Regions from separate parts of the Homo sapiens genome. Here all the other regions are reported to be linked to region 1. Evidence: microRNA targets listed by miRTarBase, many of them from high-throughput screens and not tested one by one. Region 1 holds a microRNA gene; each other region holds the end of a gene's coding sequence.
Evidence for each region. The annotated mature microRNA hsa-miR-548au-3p reads UGGCAGUUACUUUUGCACCAG and lies in region 1 at 1,361-1,381, shown strand. An mRNA with a match to its seed (bases 2 to 7 or 8) in the 3' UTR can be bound and repressed. Matches are read on the target gene's strand: a 7mer-m8 pairs with bases 2 to 8, a 7mer-A1 pairs with bases 2 to 7 and ends in A, and an 8mer does both.

Region 2: the mRNA of KBTBD6 is a reported target of hsa-miR-548au-3p. Seed matches in the 3' UTR shown: 7mer-A1 at 825-831.
Region 3: miRTarBase lists ZDHHC16 as a target of hsa-miR-548au-3p. Seed matches in the 3' UTR shown: 7mer-A1 at 2,490-2,496.

What each region holds. Positions count from the first base shown.
Region 1 is chr9:93,593,514-93,596,704 of GRCh38, forward strand. MIR548AU (microRNA 548au) reads left to right here and starts at 1,328; the gene lies at 1,328-1,381. The region is part of intron 1 of PHF2 (PHD finger protein 2); the gene reads left to right.
Region 2 is chr13:41,127,935-41,131,007 of GRCh38, reverse strand. It overlaps KBTBD6 (kelch repeat and BTB domain containing 6), which reads left to right. Exons shown (of 1, transcript NM_152903.5): 1 at 1-3,073. The coding sequence ends at 521. Among named protein-coding and RNA genes, the nearest start is that of KBTBD6, 3.3 kb to the left of the region's middle.
Region 3 is chr10:97,456,732-97,459,804 of GRCh38, reverse strand. It overlaps ZDHHC16 (zDHHC palmitoyltransferase 16), which reads right to left. Exons shown (of 12, transcript NM_198046.3): 12 at 2,435-3,028. The coding sequence ends at 2,914. It overlaps MMS19 (MMS19 cytosolic iron-sulfur assembly component), which reads left to right. Exons shown (of 31, transcript NM_022362.5): 27 at 64-146; 28 at 279-443; 29 at 523-582; 30 at 905-1,005; 31 at 1,086-1,481. The coding sequence ends at 1,113. Among named protein-coding and RNA genes, the nearest start is that of ZDHHC16, 12 kb to the right of the region's middle.

The sequences.
Region 1 (3,191 bases):
CCAAAACCTGCTTTGGATTTTTTAAAGAGACCATGCCCTTTATCTGTAATATCTGTTAAAAATCCACCATAACAAATTTAAAAGTATATAAAGAATGAATATTTTAGATATTTATTTAATTTATCAAGAATTCTACACTGTTGAATGATGAAGTTGGGATGACTAGGCAAATGACAGTGTCCTCTTGTAAATCGGAAATTATGCAGTCGTCAGCAGTGATGTTTACAGCAAGGCTTTAATGCTATGGGGATATCTTTATGATGATATTAAATGAAACACTACACACATAATGTGATGGCTGGTGTCAACCAATTAAAATGGAAGACGGTCTAGGAGGGAATATGCCAACATGTTAAAGGTTAAGATTACGTTTTTCCTACCACTTTTGTACTTTTCTGTACATTCCAATTTGTTTTCCAAGAGCTTAATACTTTTATAATCAGATATAAAGTAAGCAAGGGAGTAAGACCATCAGGGTTTAGAGGTCATATTGCCTGGCCTCCTGTTTTACAGATTTTATGGACTGTGGGTTTTATAGACACTGGGGCTTGGGTAGCTCTCTCTGCTGCACAGCAATTGGCCCCAGGCCTCCCTGAAGGAGCTGTGGTGGGTGAGGACACCTCACCCTTCCGGAGATATCTGCCCTTCCGGCACACCCCCTCTTCTCATGTGACCCCCCCCCCCTCCATTAATGCACAATGCACATTAGCTTAGTCTGCAGCCTATCTGCCTGTGTTGGCCAGAGCTACCCGAGGGCCCCTGTGGGTGGACAGGCCATTGACCATGAGCCTGCATGTAAGAGTTTTCAGTTGAAAAGGGCCCCGCCCAGTCAGCCCCTCCCCTGCTTTGGGAACATTCCAGGTCGGGGCGGCTCCTGTTCCCAGCCTCTTCAGGCTGATAGGTTCCTGACTCTTGGGTCAGGGATGGGCCTCCCATGGCACCAGGAGCAGCCACCACTTCCCAGAGCAGCAGGGCGTGTCACAGCTGTCATCGGGTGTACTTCCTCACCCCAAGGGTCTACTGCAAGTGGGGATCCCAGCTTGTGGACACCTGCAGAGGACCCCACAGGCTGTGTGAACTGAGCTTCCTCTGGCACTGCCCTCCTGCTGATTGGCAGCTAAGCTCCCAGTCACTGCTCCCAGTGACAGCATGAGTGGGAGAGCACATTGGGACCTTGTGCCTAAAACATGTGGATTGCAAGGTACATGGGGGTTTGACAGAAGATAGGACCGCTGAGGAGAGCCCAGTGGACACCAGCCTTAGTCCACACCGGCTGAGGACACAGACCAGCCTAAGTTCCAGTCTGAAGATGTTATTAGGTTGGTACAAAAGTAATTGCGGTTTTTGCTATTGGTTTTAATGGCAGTTACTTTTGCACCAGCCTAATATCATTCTGAAGGAATTATGTATCTTCATTTGAAGAATGGAGATTCTTCCTGCACAGGCTTTAAAGGAATACTTATAGTTACTTAGGTACTTACAGATGCCAATCACCAGCAGGTACTCAGGTACTTACAAATACTAAAGGAATACTTACAGATACTTGGGTACTTATAGATGCTAAATAATTACTAACAGGCATTTGGGTGCTTATCTTTAAAGGGGTACTTACAGATGCTAAATGATTACTTGCAGGTACCCAAATACAGATGAGAAATGATTAGTCATAACTATTCAGGTATTTATAGATACTAAATAATTACTTACACATACTTGGGTACCTACTGATGCCAAATTATTACTAACAGATACTTGGGTAATTATAGACACTAAATGATTACTTATATGTACTTAGATACTTAGGGATGCTGTGTGATTATCTGTGGATGCTCAGATACTTACAGATACTCTTCACCTGGAGGTAGAGAGTAGGGAAGCCTGACGCTACAATATGAGGAGCCGCTTTCAGTTGAATCTACTTTAGGAATGACGGTAAGGAATTTATGAAAATATAATGTAAACCTGAAGAAATTTAGGATTTGGAGTCACAGAAGATATTTCCTAGTTGTCTTCATTGTGTGACCACTCATTGGCCCAAAGCTGTGTCTGGAATGCCTGCACATATGTCTGAGCGTTGTGCATGGCTCCTCTCTGCATGTGCAGACACACTTTATACACAGACCGAGATTTGCATCTTCTGTGAACAAGGATGAGTGCGGCTGTGCATGCGCCCACTGGGCATATGTGTGTATACATACCTGGTTTGCAGGTAAATATGTGCGTAACCAGAGATGCCTTCCTCTTGATGGAACTTCCCTGAGGATGCTAGACCTGGATTTCCTGAGGTGGATTTCATGAAACAAAAAGTCAACATCCTGATGTTAATCCATTTTCTCTATAATCCCTGAGTGGGCAAATTTATAAGGGTTGTGTTAATGTTAGTTTTACTCCTGTCTCACAGGCACTGGTGATACTGTACTCTTTCAGGTTTGATAACTAGTCTTTGAATTCTTATGTCTGTGGCCACCAGCAGGATGGGGCATTTCCCAGTTGCTGGCTTACCCACGGTCTGTCCTCATGGGCGAACTGCCCTCCCGGCTCCACTGCTCTTGGCCTCTCTGGTTAAGCTGGCTCTTCCTCTTCTGTGTGCTGGGTCTAGTGGCATATGAGGCAGGCCGCATGGAGTGGGGGCTGTCCTGGGAAGCTGACCTCAGTCCAGCATGATACTCTGCACAGCTGTGGGTTAGGAGGAGGTTTCCCTGTTTCTATTGGGACCCCCTGTGCCCACGAGTGGAGGGCAAGCTGCATGTCACCTGGATGGCAGCTGGAGGAGTGGAGCTGACTGAAGCTTCATTGGGGCCCCTGCATTTTTCATTTAGCCCAAATTCAGCACCAGGGATCAAGGCTCCATGGATGCTTGAAGGAATGAAGGAGTGCTTGAATGAATGAAGAAATGCGTGTGCACTGGCCAGCTGGTGTGTACTGTGATGTCTCAGCCCTAAAAACCTGCCCTTCTTGAATATGGTGTGCTTCTTGGTGGGCCAGGTTTATCCTAGTGGGAGAGCCAGCACCCAGAACCTTCAGAGGACTGGGAGTCGGGAGGGGCAGGGCTCGAGTGCTACTCCTTTTTGTAGCAGGAAGAGAGGCTGTGTGGTGCTGGAGGGCTTCATGATCACTGGCCTCCTGTGTGCCTAGGGAGCTTGCTTCCCAGGAAGGTGTTGATGCATGCAGCTGAGCATGTGTCTCTGGGC
Region 2 (3,073 bases), not on the chromosome of region 1:
ATATGTGGCTGAAGTGCGTTTCTCTGAAGCGCAATGACTTTCAGGAAGCCTGCGTCTTCAATGAGGAGATCTATTGTATCTGTGATATCCCAGTCATGAAGGTCTACAACCCAGTTAGGGCAGAATGGAGGCAAATGAATAATATTCCCTTGGTCTCAGAGACCAACAACTACAGAATTATCAAGCATGGCCAAAAATTGTTGCTCATCACCTCTCGCACCCCACAGTGGAAAAAGAACCGGGTGACTGTGTATGAATATGATATTAGGGGAGACCAATGGATTAATATAGGTACCACATTAGGCCTCTTGCAGTTTGATTCTAACTTTTTTTGCCTCTCTGCTCGTGTTTATCCTTCCTGCCTTGAACCTGGTCAGAGTTTCCTCACTGAAGAAGAAGAAATACCAAGTGAGTCTAGCACTGAATGGGACTTAGGTGGATTCAGTGAGCCAGACTCTGAGTCAGGAAGTTCAAGTTCTCTTTCTGATGATGATTTTTGGGTGCGTGTAGCGCCTCAGTGAAATGCACAGGATCAACAGGGTTTGTTGTAACTAGATTGAAACACTAAGTTGTTTTTACTGTTTTGGAAAATATCTTAAATATCCTTTTTGTTCCTAAAGGAGAGGAAAAGTTGATTAACTTCTGGTTTGGTTTAGAAAAAGTAATGTTTGAAATACGAAGGTAATTTAATGTTACAAATTTTAACACTCAAATCAACCTTTTAATAATTTTCTGTGCTAAGGGTCCAGTATTTATTTGATTATTTAGTATGTTTATGTTTCATGACACTAATTTAGTCTTTTGATACATTTTACATTCTGTTTACTGCCACAAGCACTGTGGCAATAACTTTTGAATTTTAATTTTTATAATAGAAAAATGATTAGGAATTGCTAGATAGTGTTTTGAAAGCATATCTTTTTCTTCAGAACAATGTAGACTTCCAAAATGGTTAACCTAAGGGGTCTTTACAAAATGTGTTATAAGTTAAACATAATTTGGGAAGTTTTACTTTTGTTTTCTTCTATGAAGAAAAAAATGCAGGCTGGGCGCGGTGGCTCACGCCTGTAATCCTAGCACTTTGGGAGGCCGAGGCAGGTGGATCACCTGAGGTCAGTTCAAGACCAGCCTGGCCAACATGGTGAAACCCCGTCTCTACTAAAAATACAAAAATTAGCTGGGCGTGGTGGCATGCGCCTGTAATCCCAGCTACCCAGGAGGCTGAGGCAGGAGAATTGCTGAAACCCGGGAGTCAGAGGCTGCAGAGAGCCGAGACTGGGCCACTGCACTCCAGCCTGGATGACAGAGTGAGACTCCGTCTCAAAAAAAAAAAAAAAAAAAAAAGGAAAAAAAAAAAAGAAAAAAAACCATATGTGTATTAGGGTGACTGAGTGGTGACTTCATTTATAATAATACAGAGAATAGCTATAAGCTCATTGACAGTAAAAACAACAAACCAGGATTCTACTGTTTGAAAAGAAGTTTCGTTTTAATTTTGGAATTTAGAATGTGTATTTGCAAAGTCACCAATTTTCATCTAAAAGGTTATATTCTAGTTGTGTCACCAAATCATCAAAAAACCTTAAAAAAGAAGTAACTTGCTTTGTAGGTTTGTATTGTTGATCTAAACCTGATACATGCTTCATTTAATCAGGAATAATCCTTTTTTTTCTGCTGGACATGTATAAATTTCACTGGATTGTATAAATTTTTATCTATTGCCTTAAACATTTACATGATTCTCAATATGTTTTAGCTGTACAGTTTTGGTGTTCATCTTAGAGGATTCTTCAGCAGAAGTGATATTTCTTTACTGTTTTGTGAGGTAATACTGATTTTGAAAATATATATAAGCTAAAAACAGTATTTCGTTGATATCAGTAGTCATTGTGTTAACTATAAAGTCAAGTGCCAGCAAAGAACTTTAAAACTGTAAAGCTGTGTATAGAACTGTTTTGTGTAGCATGGAAATATTCTGTCAGCTTTTTAAAGTCACTAAATGTTCTTGATTATCAGCTTGAAGGTATTTTTGTATTACAAGTTGACAGTTGCTGGGTGTAGTGGCTCATGCCTGTAATCCTAGCAACTCGGGGCTGAGGTGGGAGGATTGCTTCAGCCCAGGAGTTTGAGACCAGCCTGGGCAACATAGCAAAACCCCATCTCTACAAAAATAAAAAATATGTCTGGGCATGGTGGCCCAAGTCTGAGTCCCAGTTACTTGGGAGGATCACTTGAATGTAGGATCACTTGAGTCTAGGAGTTCGGGGCTGCAGCTATCATCTGCAGCTATAATCATAGCTCACTGCAGCTATGATCATGTCTCAGCACTCCAGCTTTGGCAACAGAACGAGATCCCATCTCTTAGAAAAACAAAGTTGATAGTTAAAGAACATAAGTGGATGATGGCATTTGAGGCCACTAGTGAAAGTATGTTTTCTCTAAAATATTTCTCTAATAGTGATATAAATGGCTATTTTATTATGATGTTTGTATGTGTTTTGTATTTCTCTGTAAACCATGCTCCAGTCTTTGTTTTTCTGTTACCATAATGTAAGAGAAGGTCCTGGAACAGAGACTAAATCCCACGAAACTGACATTGTTAAACACACTAAAACAGAAGTACTTACCTCTTGAAGATTTAATATATAATGGTTGACATGATACATGTACATGATGAATGACCAGATGCTTATGGTCTACATTTTCCTTTATCCTGTTAGTATTACCTTCCTTAATCTTTGTTCATTAACATGCTAATTCCTCTTCAGTGTTTATTTTCTAGTGACAGAATGCTAACATTTCTTACACCCTGGCAGAAGGGAGAGAAATGTGTTTTGGGGTGGGTAACTAAATTTTTGAGTGAAATATCATAAGATGAGAATGGAAAGAGGGAGACACAAAGAGTTATAACAAAAAAACAATGGTTTTTTTAGCCATTTGACTGGCTCTTTAAATAGTCTACAAGACATTCACGTTTAACATCACTTTTAGTGAAATAAAATGTGCCATACTAGTATGTGCTTCAAAAGGGCAAATGTGCTTTAGTGCCCTAAGGCTAAATTTTGGTCATTTG
Region 3 (3,073 bases), not on the chromosome of region 1:
ATTGATTTCTCAAGCTATATATCTAAGTCCAATTTCTCCCCTAAGCCTTTCCATTTTTTACAGATGTGAAGCCAAACTACTTGAAGGGTCTTTCTCATGTACTTAACAGGCTGCCCAAGCCTGTACTCTTGCCAGAGCTGCCCACGGTAAGTCCCACAGGCAGAGCTTCTAAGCAAAGGACAAAGCTATTCTTCCCCAGATGGGGCTAGAAAGGGGAGGGAACAAGAACCAGGATCTTCATGATGTGGCCATCCCCTACCTTGCCCATTGCCCCTTAGCTTCTTTCCTTGCTGCTGGAGGCCCTGTCCTGCCCTGACTGTGTGGTGCAGCTCTCCACCCTCAGCTGCCTTCAGCCTCTTCTACTGGAAGCACCCCAAGTCATGAGTCTTCACGTGGACACCCTCGTCACCAAGTTTCTGAACCTCAGCTCTAGCCCTTCCATGGTGCGTTGAGCCCCAGCAACTCTTAGGCACCAGCATCTCTCCCTGGGCATGCTCTCACCTCCTTGTGGTTGTGTTCCAGGCTGTCCGGATCGCCGCACTGCAGTGCATGCATGCTCTCACTCGCCTGCCCACCCCTGTGGTAAGTACCTCAGGTGTCCTTCCCTGGCCTGGGAACATCTCAAGAGACACATAAGTACCTTTTTGCCTTAGTCAGGTGGGCTTGGCCACCCTGGTGTGTAATTGAGATCTGAATTACAAGGTACAGATCTTGTAATTCTGGGCCCAAGGATTCTTTTCCTTGGGCCCAGAAGGTAACAGAAAGGCCATCCTGCCACTTAACATCCCTTGGAATCACTAAAGATGTTTTGCTTTCCTCAGAATATTAGTTGTACAGAATCAAAAAAGCGGTACTTTCAGTTGCCTTGGATGAGCAAGGTTGATTATATCCTCTGACTCCACAGCTGCTGCCGTACAAACCACAGGTGATTCGGGCCTTAGCCAAACCCCTGGATGACAAGAAGAGACTGGTGCGCAAGGAAGCAGTGTCAGCCAGAGGGGAGTGGTGAGTTTCTAGGTCGTGGGGAGAGATGGGACCAAGATGAGCCTCATCACTAATGCTGCCAACTTTCTTTTTGCCTACAGGTTTCTGTTGGGGAGCCCTGGCAGCTGAGCCCTCAGTCCTGGCCTAGACTGTTCTGACAATCTAACCTGGGATTACTAACTGTTGAGCCATCTTCCCCAAAGCAGGGAAACCACTGGTCTCTGACTGCCTTTCCCACAGACACAGCACAAATGCTAGGCCTCTGTTGCATGGCTGTACAAAGAACATAAGAGTCCATATTTCTAGTGGATTTGTAAAATAAGTGTGTGTGAGACACTTGCGTTTGAAGAAAGATCTAGGGTCCTGGGTCTCTTGCATTTATATGTCAGAAAAGGGGCGATATGCTGCTGAGGGGTGAGTGCATATGAGTGTGGCCCTGAGGACCAGGGCTGGCAGATGTTGTCTACCTGCTGAAGAATAAAGATTTCTTTTGGTAATGGGGCTGTCAGATATTTCCCCCACCCCACATATGCCTCATATAACCAGAGGCATCACTGGAATAACAATGACAGGGATTGGCCAAAAATTTTTCAGGGTAACCAGGACAGTAGCACATGCCTGTAACCCCAACACTTCAGGAGGCTGAGGCAGGCGGATCACTTGAGGCTAGGAGTTTGAGACTAGCCCTGGCAGTATAGCAAGAACCCATCTCTACAAATAATTAAAAAAAAAAAAAAATTAAGCTGGGCATGGTGGCTGACGCCTGTAATCCCAGCATTTTGGGAGGCCGAGGCGCATGGATCAGTGGAGGTCAGGAGTTCAAGACCAGACTGGCCAACATGGTGAAACCCCATCTCCACTAAAAATACAAAAATTAGCCAGGTGTGGTGGCATACGCCTTTAATCACAGCTACTTGGGAGGCTGAGACACAAGAATCACTTGAGCCGGGCGCGGTGGCTCACGCCTGTAAAGCTTGTAATCCCAGCACTTTGGGAGGCCGAGGCGGATGGATCACAAGGTCATGACATCGAGACCTCCTGGCTAACACAGTGAAACCCCGTCTCTACTAAAAATACAAAAATTAGCCGGGTGTGGTGGCGGGCGCCTGTAGTCCCAGCTACTCGGGAGGCTGAGGCAGGAGAATGGCGTGAACCCGGGAGGCGGAGCTTGCAGTGAGCCGAGATCACACCACTGCACTCCAGCCTGGGTGATATAGAGCGAGACTCCGTCTCAAAAAAAAAAAAAAAAAAAAATCACTTGAAACTGGGAGGCGGAGGTTGCAGTGAGTCAAGATCGCGCCACTGCATTACAGCCTGAGAGACAGAGTGAGACTCCATCTCCAAAAAAAAAAAAAATGTAGGAAGCATGACCAGAACACCTACTCACTAGGTCTTGACCCTGACTTTCCCCTTCCCTGCCCTATCGTGAGGCAGAGAGTGAGAAGCTACATATCTTTAAAAATCGAATACCTTTATTTGTGCTCCCTTAAGCAGCATGTGAGAAGTGGCAGTGACCTCAGCAGCAGGCCTGGTATCTTTGCCCTGTTGAGAAGCCAAGATCTCAGCTGTACTAGTCAGGTGTTTTTTCAGACAGCAAGTAGAAGAGGTGGTGGCCAACTCCAGTGCTGTATCCTGGAGGAGGTCCGGGTCAGCACTGGGCAAGGTAGGTAGCTAGCTGCCTGACCCCTAGTCTGGGGTTGGAACTTCTGTTTGCCTGAGTAAAGGGATGTCAGTCCTAAGATTTCTCCACATTGTGTCTTTCTTCTGCAGTGGTAAAAAGGCTGGTCCTTGAATTGTCCTGCATGGTACCCTAAGGCAGGCCCACTGGCTCTTTTTGATCAAGGATTCTGAGAAAAGCTGCCCTTGGAGGCCCTTGAAATAACATAGGGAGCAGAATGAGTGCTCGAGTCGTGGCTGACACAGTCCAGCTCACACTGCCATCACAGAGGCTGAGTGAGCAGTCACCCAGGGAGGGGGCTCCCAGCTCATTCCATTCCCATGGGGCAAGTGACTAGAAGGTAAGAGCACCCGAGTAAGCCAGTGCCTAGAAGAGAAGAGAGAAATGTCTCTGAGTTCAAGAATTCTTGGT